Regions from separate parts of the Homo sapiens genome. Here region 2 is linked to region 1. The links come from fine-mapping of genetic effects on gene expression. Tissue or cell type: whole blood. Region 1 holds a variant in brackets; the other region holds the start of a gene. All regions are shown on one strand. Distances are between the middles of the regions.

Region 1 (5,208 bases):
AGATTGAATGTTGAATATGAAGCCTATACAATGTTTAGTATCATTGGTATATTGAGCTATATTAGAAAATTATAGTCCCAATTGTGCATTAAGTTTGTGTGGTTGGTACATGGAGATATATGTGATGTGCCCTCTAAGAACCTACAGAGGAGGGAATATTTTTTTCTGAGAGTTAAATTAGTAAAAGCCATTTTTTTGCTAGTAAGAATTACCTGAAGGGCTACTCTGGGCACACTGCCTATTGGGTAGCCTGCTCTGCAAGGAGCAGTAAAAATAAAAAAAAGAATTGTCTAAAGATTTGAGGAATGCTAAAATCACTAATCAGTGTGCTCTAAGAATAATATTAGGGAGACAGTTCTGATATGATCAGAATTTAATGAGTAGTTTCCACGGATAACCTGAAAAAAAAAAAAAGGTGGGCACGGTGGCTCATCCCTGTAATCCCAACACTTTGGGATGCCGAGGCGAGAGGATTGCTTGAGCCCAGGAGTTCGAGAGCAGCCTAGGCAACATAGGTAGATCCCGTCTCTACAAAAAGTAAAATAAAAAATTAGCTGGGTACGGTGGCACACACCTGTCATCCCAGGTACTTGGAAGGCTGAAGCGGGAGGATCACTTGAGCCTGGGAGGTCAAGGCTGCAGTGGGCCATGGTCATGCAACTGCACTCTAACCTAGGTGACAGAGCAAGACCCTGTCTTTAAAAAAAAAAAAAGAATTTAGTGAGTGGAAATCTTAACTTATTTTACCGTATCCTCTTTTGGACGAAGTCTGTGAACAGGAGGATGGTGGTCAGCTCAGAAGATAGGAAAGGGAAACCTAAAGCATGCGGAGTTGGGTAGCTGGTGTGTTGGGAGATAAGTTTGTGATTTACTGTTTCCTGAGACAGACATATTCTTACTCTGCAGAGGGATTTGTGTAGTCTGATGTCATTAAATATTTGAGTGAGTCGTATAATTATTTTTCTGTGGTTTGTCCCTTGTTTACCCTAGCGCCACTTTTTTTTATTTGTTAGTTTTTTTTTCTTTTTCCGAGATGGAGTCTGGCTCTATTGCCCAGGCTGGAGTGCAGTGGCACAATCTTGGCTCACTGCAACCTCCGCCTCCTGGGTTCAAGCAATTCTCCTGCCTCAGCCTCCCAAGTAGCTGGGATTACAGGTGCGTGCCACCACGCTCCGCTAATTTTTGTATTTTTAGTAGAGGTGGGGTTTCACCATGTTGGCCAGGCTGGCCTCAAACTCCTGATCTCATAATCCACCCGTCTCAGCCTCCCAAAGTGCTGGGATTACAGGTGTGAGCCACTGTGCCCAGCCTTCTTTTTTTTTTTTTTTTTTTTGAGGCAGAGTCTCACGCTACCGCCCAGGCTGGAGTGCAGTGGTATGATCACCGCTCACTGTAGCCTCAACTTCTGGGGCTCCAGTGATCTTTCCACCTCAGCCTCCTGAGTAACTGGAACTACAGGCACACATGCTGGCTGATTGTTATATTTTTGGTAGAGACCATGTTTCGCCATGTTGCCCAGGCTTGTCTCGCACTCCTGGGCTCATGTGATCCTCCCACCTCGACCTCTCAAAGTGCTGGAACTACAGGTGTGAGCCACCATGCCCAGGCCTCTAGCTGAGGGAGAAAATGTACTCATCTGCTGATGAGAGCATTCTAGTCTGCTAGACATTTGCATTTCTTGTTATAAACAAAAAAATCAACCCAAAAGTAAAGAAATGGAAACAACACTAACCTGTGGGCCTACATATATTTTTTGTTTTGTTTTGTTTAGAGACATGGTCTTCCTCTGTTGTTCAGAGGTGTGCAGTGGTGTGATCATAGCTCACTGTATGTAACTTCTAACTTCTGGGCTCAAGCGATCCTCCTGCTTCAGCCTCCCAAAGTGCTGGGACTACAGGCGTGAGTCACTACACCCAGTCCACATGTGTATGTTTATGTTTCTGCAAGCTTGGTTAGAATAAGTTGGTCCTGTGAGAAAGATATGCTTATAGTCTGTTTCATCTGATGAAGTTTCTTTGTGGCTACTCCCCTAGTGTGGTGGTATTTTGCATTGCTCTGAACCTTAACATTTGAAAACTGTAACAGTTTAGGCCATTTAACTTGTGTGGCTTCACTGGTAAAATTAGAATGTTGAACAAATGATCTTATAGTCCTCCCAGGTCTAAATCTTTATGGATTCATAACCTGAGCATTATGTGCTCAGTTGTAGCAGACCTACAGGTAAGAGTTAGAAGGAAGCTTAGAGAGTATTGAAATATCACTGATATTACCCATATGACTAAAGTTGCACTTTTTTCTTTCTTTTTTTTTTGAGACGGAGTCTAATTCTGTTGCTCAGGCTGTAGTGCAGTGGCACGATCTTTGCTCACTGCAGCCTTGATCTCCTGGGCTCAAGCGATCCTCCCACCTCAGCCTCCAGAGTGCTGGGACTATAGACACACACCATCTTGCCCTGCTAATTTTTTAATTTTTTTTGTACAGATGTGGTTTTGCCATGGTTCCCAGGCTGGTCTCGAACTCCTGAACTCAAGCAGTCCCTCCACTTTGGCCTCCCAAAGTACAGGGATTACAGGCGTACGCCACTACACCTGCCCTAAAGTTGCACATCTTAACTAACCTTGTTTTGTTTGGCTCCGCTGTACTGACCAGGTCATCATTTAGGTATTACTGCTAGACTAAAGCTTCTTAAAGCAAGGCCAATGTCTCCTGAGTACAGAATCATGTCTGTCACAGAGAAAAGGCATTAAGTACTTATTGAGTGAATGTATTAGAGCATACCTGGGACAATGTATTTGGGACATAGCTAAACATGGTTTGGTTATTAATGACTTTTTAAAATATTCTCTATTATGGAAAATTTTAAACATGTAGGAGTAGACAGGATTATATAATAAACCCTCATTTACCTATTACCCTGCTTCAGTAACCATAATCATTCTTGTTTCATCTTTATCTCTTCCCACTCTTCT[CTTCTA/A]TTATTTTCATGTAAATCACAAAGTTTATATCATTTAATCTGTAATTATTCCAATATGTATTTCAAAGATAAGGACTTTAAAAAATCATGGCCATACCATTGTCACATATTAAAGAACGACTTGGTTTTGATAAATACTAAGTTAACTTCACTTCAGAATATGTGTACTAAAGATTCCCAGTAAACCTGTTATGTGTAGTTGCCAGGCAGTTAAACTTAGAAATAAATCAATAGGACTAGCTTTATTGTTTTTCTGTTTCATATTTAGGCTATCAATATGACGGCTGAAGAAACAGTGAATGTAAAAGAGGTTGAAATCATTAAGCTAATTTTGGACTTCCTGAATTCAAAGAAGCTTCACATTAGTATGCTGGCCCTGGAGAAGGAAAGTGGAGTCATAAATGGCCTGTTTTCAGATGATATGCTTTTCCTGAGGTATGATTTCATTATACTGTGAAGTTTGTAGCTCCTTCGAAGAAATGTTAAGTATTAATAAGGTAATATATATAATACAGATAGAACTTTATAATCATGAAAAGGCTATGTAAGTATAATTTTAAAAAATATTTTATTTTATTTTATTTTTTGAGACGGAGTCTTGCTCTGTCACCCAGGCTGGAGTGCAGTGGCGAGATGTCGGCTCACTGCAAGCTCCGCCTCCCGGGTTCACGCCATTCTCCTGCCTCAGCCTCCTGCGTAGCTGGGACTACAGGCGCCCATCACCACGGCCAGCTAATTTTTGTATTTTTAGTAGAGATGGGGTTTCACCATGTTAGCCAGGATGGTCTCGATCTCCTGACCTCGTGATCTGCCCACCTTGGCCTCCCAAAGTGCTGGGATTACAGGCGTGAGCCACCGCACCCGACCTAAAAAAATATTTTAAAAATAGAACATTTACAAAATAGGCTGGGCGTGGTGGCTCACGCCTGTAATCCCAGCACTTTGGGAGGCTGAGGCAGGCGGATCACTTGAGGTCAGGAGTTTTGAGACCAGCCTGGCCAACATGGTGAAATCCCGCCTCTACTAAAAATATAAAAATTAACCGGGCATGGTGGCACATGCCTGTAATCCCAGCTAGTCGGGAGGCTGAGGCAGGAGAATCATTTGAACCAGGGAGACGGAGGTTCCAGTGAGCTGAGATCGCACCGTTGCACTCCAGCCTGGGCAGCAGAGTGAGACTCCGTCTCAAAAATACAAAAATAAAAAAAAGGAACATTTACAAAATAATGCTTTCTGTAGAATGTTTTCAGTAGTAAGACCCAGAGGTCTGTTAAAAAGAACAAGAGTCATCACTCCATTGTGGTTGTGGTATGATAATAAAAGATATTTGACTAAGAAAATCGGACTTTGAAAAGGTAAAGAAAATGTTTCTGAAATACCATTTTTTGGCCATAGAAATAAGATGTGTTCATTATAGAAAATATAGAAAGATAAATAAAAGAAAAATTACCCCACCACACAGACATAATATTGTTCTTATTCCTTGCTGTTTTCATTCTTAGAGTGTAAATTCTGTGCATCTTTTTTTTGCATCTATTAAAAATAACAATTCTGTTGTGTTTATGATTTAGAATCATGCCTTATCTATTAACATCACAAGGTTTCTCTGTGTGATTACAAACTTATATTTAAAAAATTTTCAGGCTGGGCATGGTGACTCAAACCTGCAATCCTAGCCATTTGCGAGTCCAAGGCAGGCGGATCACCTGAGGTCAGGAGTTTGAGACCAGACTGGCCAACGTAGTGAAACCCCGTCTCTACTAAAAATACAAAAATTAGCTGGGTGTGGTGGTGCATGCCTCTAGTCCCAGCTACTCGAGAGGCTAAGGCAGGAAAATCACTTGAGCCCGAGAGGCAGAGGTTGCAGTGAGCCATGATGGTGCCACTGTACTCCAGCCTGGGCGACAGAGCAAGACTAAATAAATAAATAAATAATAAATTAAATAAATAATAAATTAAAAAAGGCCAGGCGTGGTGGCTTACGCCTGTAATCCCAGCACTTTGGGAGGCTGAGCCGTGTGGATCACTTAAGGTTAGGAGTTCGAGACCAGCCTGGCCAACGTGGTGAAATCCCGTCTCTATTAAAAATACTAAAATTAGCTGGGCATAGTGGTGCATGCCTGTAATTCCAGCTACAAATAAAAAATTTCAGTTTACTTAATTTCCTAATGGCTCCCCTAATTTTAAACAATTGTTCCCAATTTATCTTAAATAATTGCTCTACAGAACATTTT
Region 2 (5,131 bases), 52 kb before region 1:
CTTACTTCTAGTGAATAGAATAGGGCAGAAATTATAGGATGTCACTTCCAAAATTAGGTAACAAAAAACCTGTGATTTCTGTCTTTTGGGTTCTCCCACTTGTGTCCTCTGGAGGAAGGCAACTGGCACATTGTGAGCTGCCCTATGGAGTGGATTACATGGCAAGGAACTGAGGGAGACCTCTGGGCAACATCCATTAAAGAACTGAGGCCCTTAGTCCAACAACCTGGAGGAAGTGAAACCTCCAGCAACCTGTGAGTGACTCTGGCAAATTCTCCTCCATCAACACTTGAGGTATGACTGCAGCCCCAGCCAACATCCCGACTGCAACAGGAGGGACCTTGAGCCACAGGCACCCAGTTAAATTGCACCCACATTGCTGACCCACAGAAACTGTGTGATATTTGTTTTAAGCCACTAAGTTTTGGGGTAATTTGTTACAGCAATAAATAACTAATATATCTACCTACTCACATAATTTTGAAAATAACATAATATCCTAACAGGATCCAGTGATCCAGTGGCCAGGAGGTCAGGCATAAAGGTAATATAAAAGTAAAGTAAAAATAGTAACATTTGTTTCAATATATAAATACTCAGGTATGATGGCACTAGGGGGGGATAATGAAGATTTCAGATGCTTCTACCTATATGTAGAATTGCTTTGAATGCAGACTGATTTGGGTGAGTATTGTCGACCTAAAAGGAAGAAGCTGAGGCAAAATTAATATAAATAGAGAGTTTATTTGGGCCAAACTTGAGGATTACAACTCAGCAGCATAAAGTTGCCTAGAATATACACTCTAAGATTAGCAGCAGGTACAAGTGGATTTTTAAAGGAAAAGAATGAGGACAGGGAGTGGGCTGATACAAAGTTGTCTTTAAGGAGTTCTCATTGGTTCACAAAAATAACATTGATTAGTAATTGGCTAAACATTATCAAGCTATAGGGTGTGCGATATGGTGTCTGATGGGGCATAATTAGGCTAATTTATAACTAATACTTGTGGCAATAGCAAGCGGTTTTAAGACATAAATACATAGCTCAAAAGGGGGCAAGCAGGATGTGATTGCCTCTCATTTTAATGCCTCTTTGGGCCTAATAATTTAACTCACATTCCTCAAATCAAAGTTATTTTTTCATTATTCACTATTCAAATTATTACAAGTGATGTTGCTTTTGGTGACGTTATTTCTTGAAATGGTACACAGCTCTTAATGAATTCCAGACCAAACAAAATACAATTACTATTCAATTTTGGGGTAATAACATTCCTAGAAACTTCAACGTACATTAAAAGTGTGGGAAAATGCTTTGTGTTTATTTTTTTAATTTTTATTTTTTGAGGTGGAGTCCCGCTCTGTCACCAGGCTGGAGTGCAGTGGCACAATCCCGGCTCACTGCAACCTCTGCCTCCCGGGTTCAAGCGATTCTCCTGCCTCAGCCTCCCGAGTAGCTGGGATTACAGGCGTGCGCCACTACGCCCAGCTAATTTTTGTACTTTTAATAGAGACGGGGTTTCATCATGTTGGCCAGGATGGTCTTGATCTCCTGACTTTGTGATCCGCCCACCTCGGCCTCCCAAAGTGCTGGGATTACAGGCGTGAGCCACTGCGCCCGGCCGCTTTGTGTTTATTAACAAAGATAGGTTCAACTCTCAGATAATTAGTTTTCACTCACCGAATGTTCAGCAGGACATTCAGAAATCGTGTGTATTACGGGATTTTCTTTATGTAGCATCATCTGTTACACTGTAGGGACATTTATATTATATCCCTAGCTCTGGCCTTCCGATGCCTGTGGTTTTGCCAGCCATTGTTCTGACCAAAAGCCTTCCCCGGTGGACACGGTGGCTCACACTTGTAATCCCAGCACTTTGGGAGGCAGAGCGGGGCAGATCGCTTGAGGCCATGAGTTCCAGACCAGCCTGGGCAATGTGGGGAAACCCCATCTCTACTAAAAATACAAAAATTAGCTGGGCATTGGTGGTGTGCGCCTGTAATCCCAGCTACTTGGAGGCTGAGGTGGGAGGATGGCTTGAGCCCAGCAGGTCTAGGCTGCAGTGAACCCTGATTGCGCCACTTCACTCCATCCCGGGGGACAGTGAGGTTGTGTCTCAAAAAAACAAAAATAAGGCCGGGCATGGTGGCGCACGCCTGTAATCCCAGCTACTCGGGAGGCTGAGGAAGGAGAATCACTTGAGCCCGGGAGGCAGAGGTTGCAGTGGGCCGGGATCGCGCCACTGCACACTTCAGCCTGGGCGACAGAGTGAGACTTCGTCTCAAAAAAAAAAAAAAAAAAAATCAAAAAACCTTCACAAAATTTTAAATGCTTAGTCTCGGGACACCATCTCTTGGAAATTTGTGATGAAGCACAGTATCCCCAATAATTAACACAGTGCTTAGAAACAGTGGAACTACAAATCTTTAAAATGATTTAAAAGCATATTTGTCTGATAAAGGACTGCTGGCTTGCCCTCCTATGATCCATAGCTTCGCAGTCCCCAAACAAGAAGCTGTGATTCAATACGCAGTAGCAAATTCAGGGTGACAACGAGATACTCGCGACCTAGCCCGTGATTTCCTTTTCTTTGTTAGTTTTCAATTCCTTCGGGATTACAGGGAGGCGCTCCGGCCTCCTCCCTTAGAGACTGTCGCATTTCCGCCGCTAGGCCGGAAAGCACCACCGTCCTCCCGCAGGCCGCAGAGGGCTAGGCCCAGCTACGGCCCCGCGCGTCACCGGAAGTGAGGCGGCGGAAGTAGTGTAACCAGCTGGGAGCCAGCCGGCAGGACGCTGTGAGTTGGCGTGCTAGTGGGATGGCAGATGAGGAAGAAGACCCCACGGTGAGTGACCGTCTCTGTCCAAAACCTGTCTTTTCTTCACTCCTTCGGGCTCAGTAGCGGAGGCAGAGTTCAGGATCGGGTCTGCTTGCCTTAGTGAATTCAGCGGACAGAGTTCGGGGACTTCACGCCCTAAGGATTGATCATTTTAGAAAGTGGGGAAGGACATGAAGGAAGAGTAGGTTTTGTGACCCCTTTCCCCTTGATTTTGGTCTGTATTTGCCAGACACTGAAACACGTACAGAATCATCAGAGATCAAAACTAACATCTATTAGCGCGCACTATGAGCCAACAGTTCAATTGTTAACAAAACTGTACTTACTGTGAAGTAATGGGAAAAGAATGCATTGAAAGTCAGACAGCCTGGATTTCAAAATTTCCATTCTCTCTGAGCAAGTTATTTAACTTTGAACATCAGTTTTCTTTTTATAAAATAGGGTTACGGGCTTACTTAAGGAACGTTTTTAGCACTGTATAAGCAAATGCATAGGAAATATTAGTTTTGCTTACTACAAAGTCTACAAAGGTAGACTTTGATTCAGTATCAACTGTTTAACAGTAACAGTAGTAATAGGCCACCTTAGTTGTTTAAAAATAAAACTTATGGTCATTGGAACTCTTACAAGTAGAAGCAGTAGGATTATTAGTTAGGAACATTGTAGAAGCCATTTTTGCATGAGTTGGAAGTTGGACTAGATACATAGGCTCCTTCAATGCTAAGGTTTCGTGGTTTTTTTTTTTGCTGCTTCCTTTGGCTTTCTGGCCTATCTGTTGAAAAGGAAAAAAAAATGTCATTATTAAAATATCAAATGCAAGGCAATTATTTGACATTTCTATATATACATTTTAACTTCTAGTTTGAGGAAGAAAATGAAGAAATTGGAGGAGGTGCAGAAGGTGGACAGGGTAAAAGAAAGAGACTTTTTTCTAAAGAATGTAAGTAGTATTTGACAATGATTTTGTTATAGATGATGAAAACTTTTGGACATGTCCTTTCAAAGTAGCTTTATTGCTTTGAATGTTTCCCTGTAGGGATAATATTCTCAGACTAGCCTATCAAATTCTGTTTAACTTTTGAATCAGATAGTACCAATCCTAACCCCAATTGTGTGTGTGTGTATAAATTGCTTTTTTTTTTTTTTTGAGACGGAGTCTCGCTCTGTCGCCCAGGCTGGAGTGCAGTGGCGCAATCTCTGCTCACTGCAAGCTCCGCCTCCCGGGTTCATGCCATTCTCCTGCCTCAGCCTCCTGAGTAGCTGGGACTACTGGCGCCGGCCACCACGCCCACCTAATTTTTTTTGTGTGTTTTTATTTTGCTTTATTTTATTTTTTTAATTTTTTTAGTATTTATTGATCATTCTTGGGTGTTTCTCAGAGAGGGGTATTTGGCGGGGTCATAGGACAATAGTGGAGAGAAGGTCAGCAGATAAACATGTGAACAAGGGTCTCTGGTTTTCCTAGGCAGAGGACCCTGCGGCCTTCCTCAGTGTTTTGTGTCCCTGGGTACTTGAGATTAGGGAGTGGTGATGACTCTTAACGAGCATGCTGCCTTCAAGCATCTGTTTAACAAAGCACATCTTGCACCGCCCTTAATCCATTTAACCCTGAGGGGACACAGCACATGTTTCAGAGAGCACGGGGTTGGGGGTAAGGTTATAGATTAATAGCATCCCAAGGCAGAAGAATTTTTCTTAGTACAGAACAAAATGGAGTCTCCTATGTCTACTTCTTTCTACACAGACACAGTAACAATCTGATCTCTCTTTCTTTTCCCCACATTTCCCCGTTTTCTATTCGACAAAACCGCCATCGTCATCATGGCCCGTTCTCAATGAACTGTTGGGTACACCTCCCAGACAGGGTGGCGGCAGGGCAGAGGGGCTCCTTACTTCCCAGATGCGGGCGGCCTGGCGGAGGCGCTCCTCAGTTCCCAGACGGGGTCGTGGCCGGGCAGAGGCGCTCCTCACCTCCCAGACGGGGTGGCGGCCGGGCAGCGGTGCTCCTCACCTCCCAGACGGAGTAGCGGCCGAGCAGAGGCGCTCCTCACATCCCAGACGGGGCGGCCGGGCAGAGGTGCTTCCCCACATCCCAGGGGATGGGCAGCCAGGCAGAGACGCTCCTCAATTCCTAGACGGGGTGGCAGCCGGGCAGAGGCTGCAATCTCAGCACTTTGGGAGGCCAAGGCAGGCAGCTGGGAGGTGGAGGTTGTAGCGAGCCGAGATCACGCCACTGCACTCCAGCCTGGGCAGCATTGAGCACTGAGTGAGCGAGACTCCGTCTGGAATCCCG

Direction of the effects. Positions count from the first base shown, and alleles are read on the strand shown. Sizes are in standard deviations (SD) of each study's normalised expression.
With allele A in place of CTTCTA in region 1, the expression in whole blood of the gene that starts at base 2,762 in region 2 is higher (moderate effect, 0.58 SD a copy in GTEx).

Evidence for each region. PIP is the estimated chance that this variant, and not a neighbour inherited with it, causes the effect.
Region 2: TAF13 starts here. The variant in region 1 is fine-mapped to the expression of TAF13 in whole blood (GTEx, PIP above 0.99).

The regions. Positions count from the first base shown.
Region 1 is chr1:109,021,556-109,026,763 of GRCh38, reverse strand. WDR47 (WD repeat domain 47) reads left to right here. Exons shown (of 15, transcript NM_001142551.2): 2 at 3,243-3,409. The coding sequence starts at 3,252. Among named protein-coding and RNA genes, the nearest start is that of WDR47, 18 kb to the left of the region's middle. The variant CTTCTA/A (reference allele first, on the strand shown) is at 2,970.
Region 2 is chr1:109,073,634-109,078,764 of GRCh38, reverse strand. TAF13 (TATA-box binding protein associated factor 13) reads left to right here and starts at 2,762. Exons shown (of 4, transcript NM_005645.4): 1 at 2,762-2,844; 2 at 3,700-3,778. The coding sequence starts at 2,818. It overlaps TMEM167B-DT (TMEM167B divergent transcript), which reads left to right. Exons shown (of 2, transcript XR_947688.3): 2 at 119-473. RefSeq lists enhancers at 2,505-2,754, 2,855-2,914, 3,519-4,505.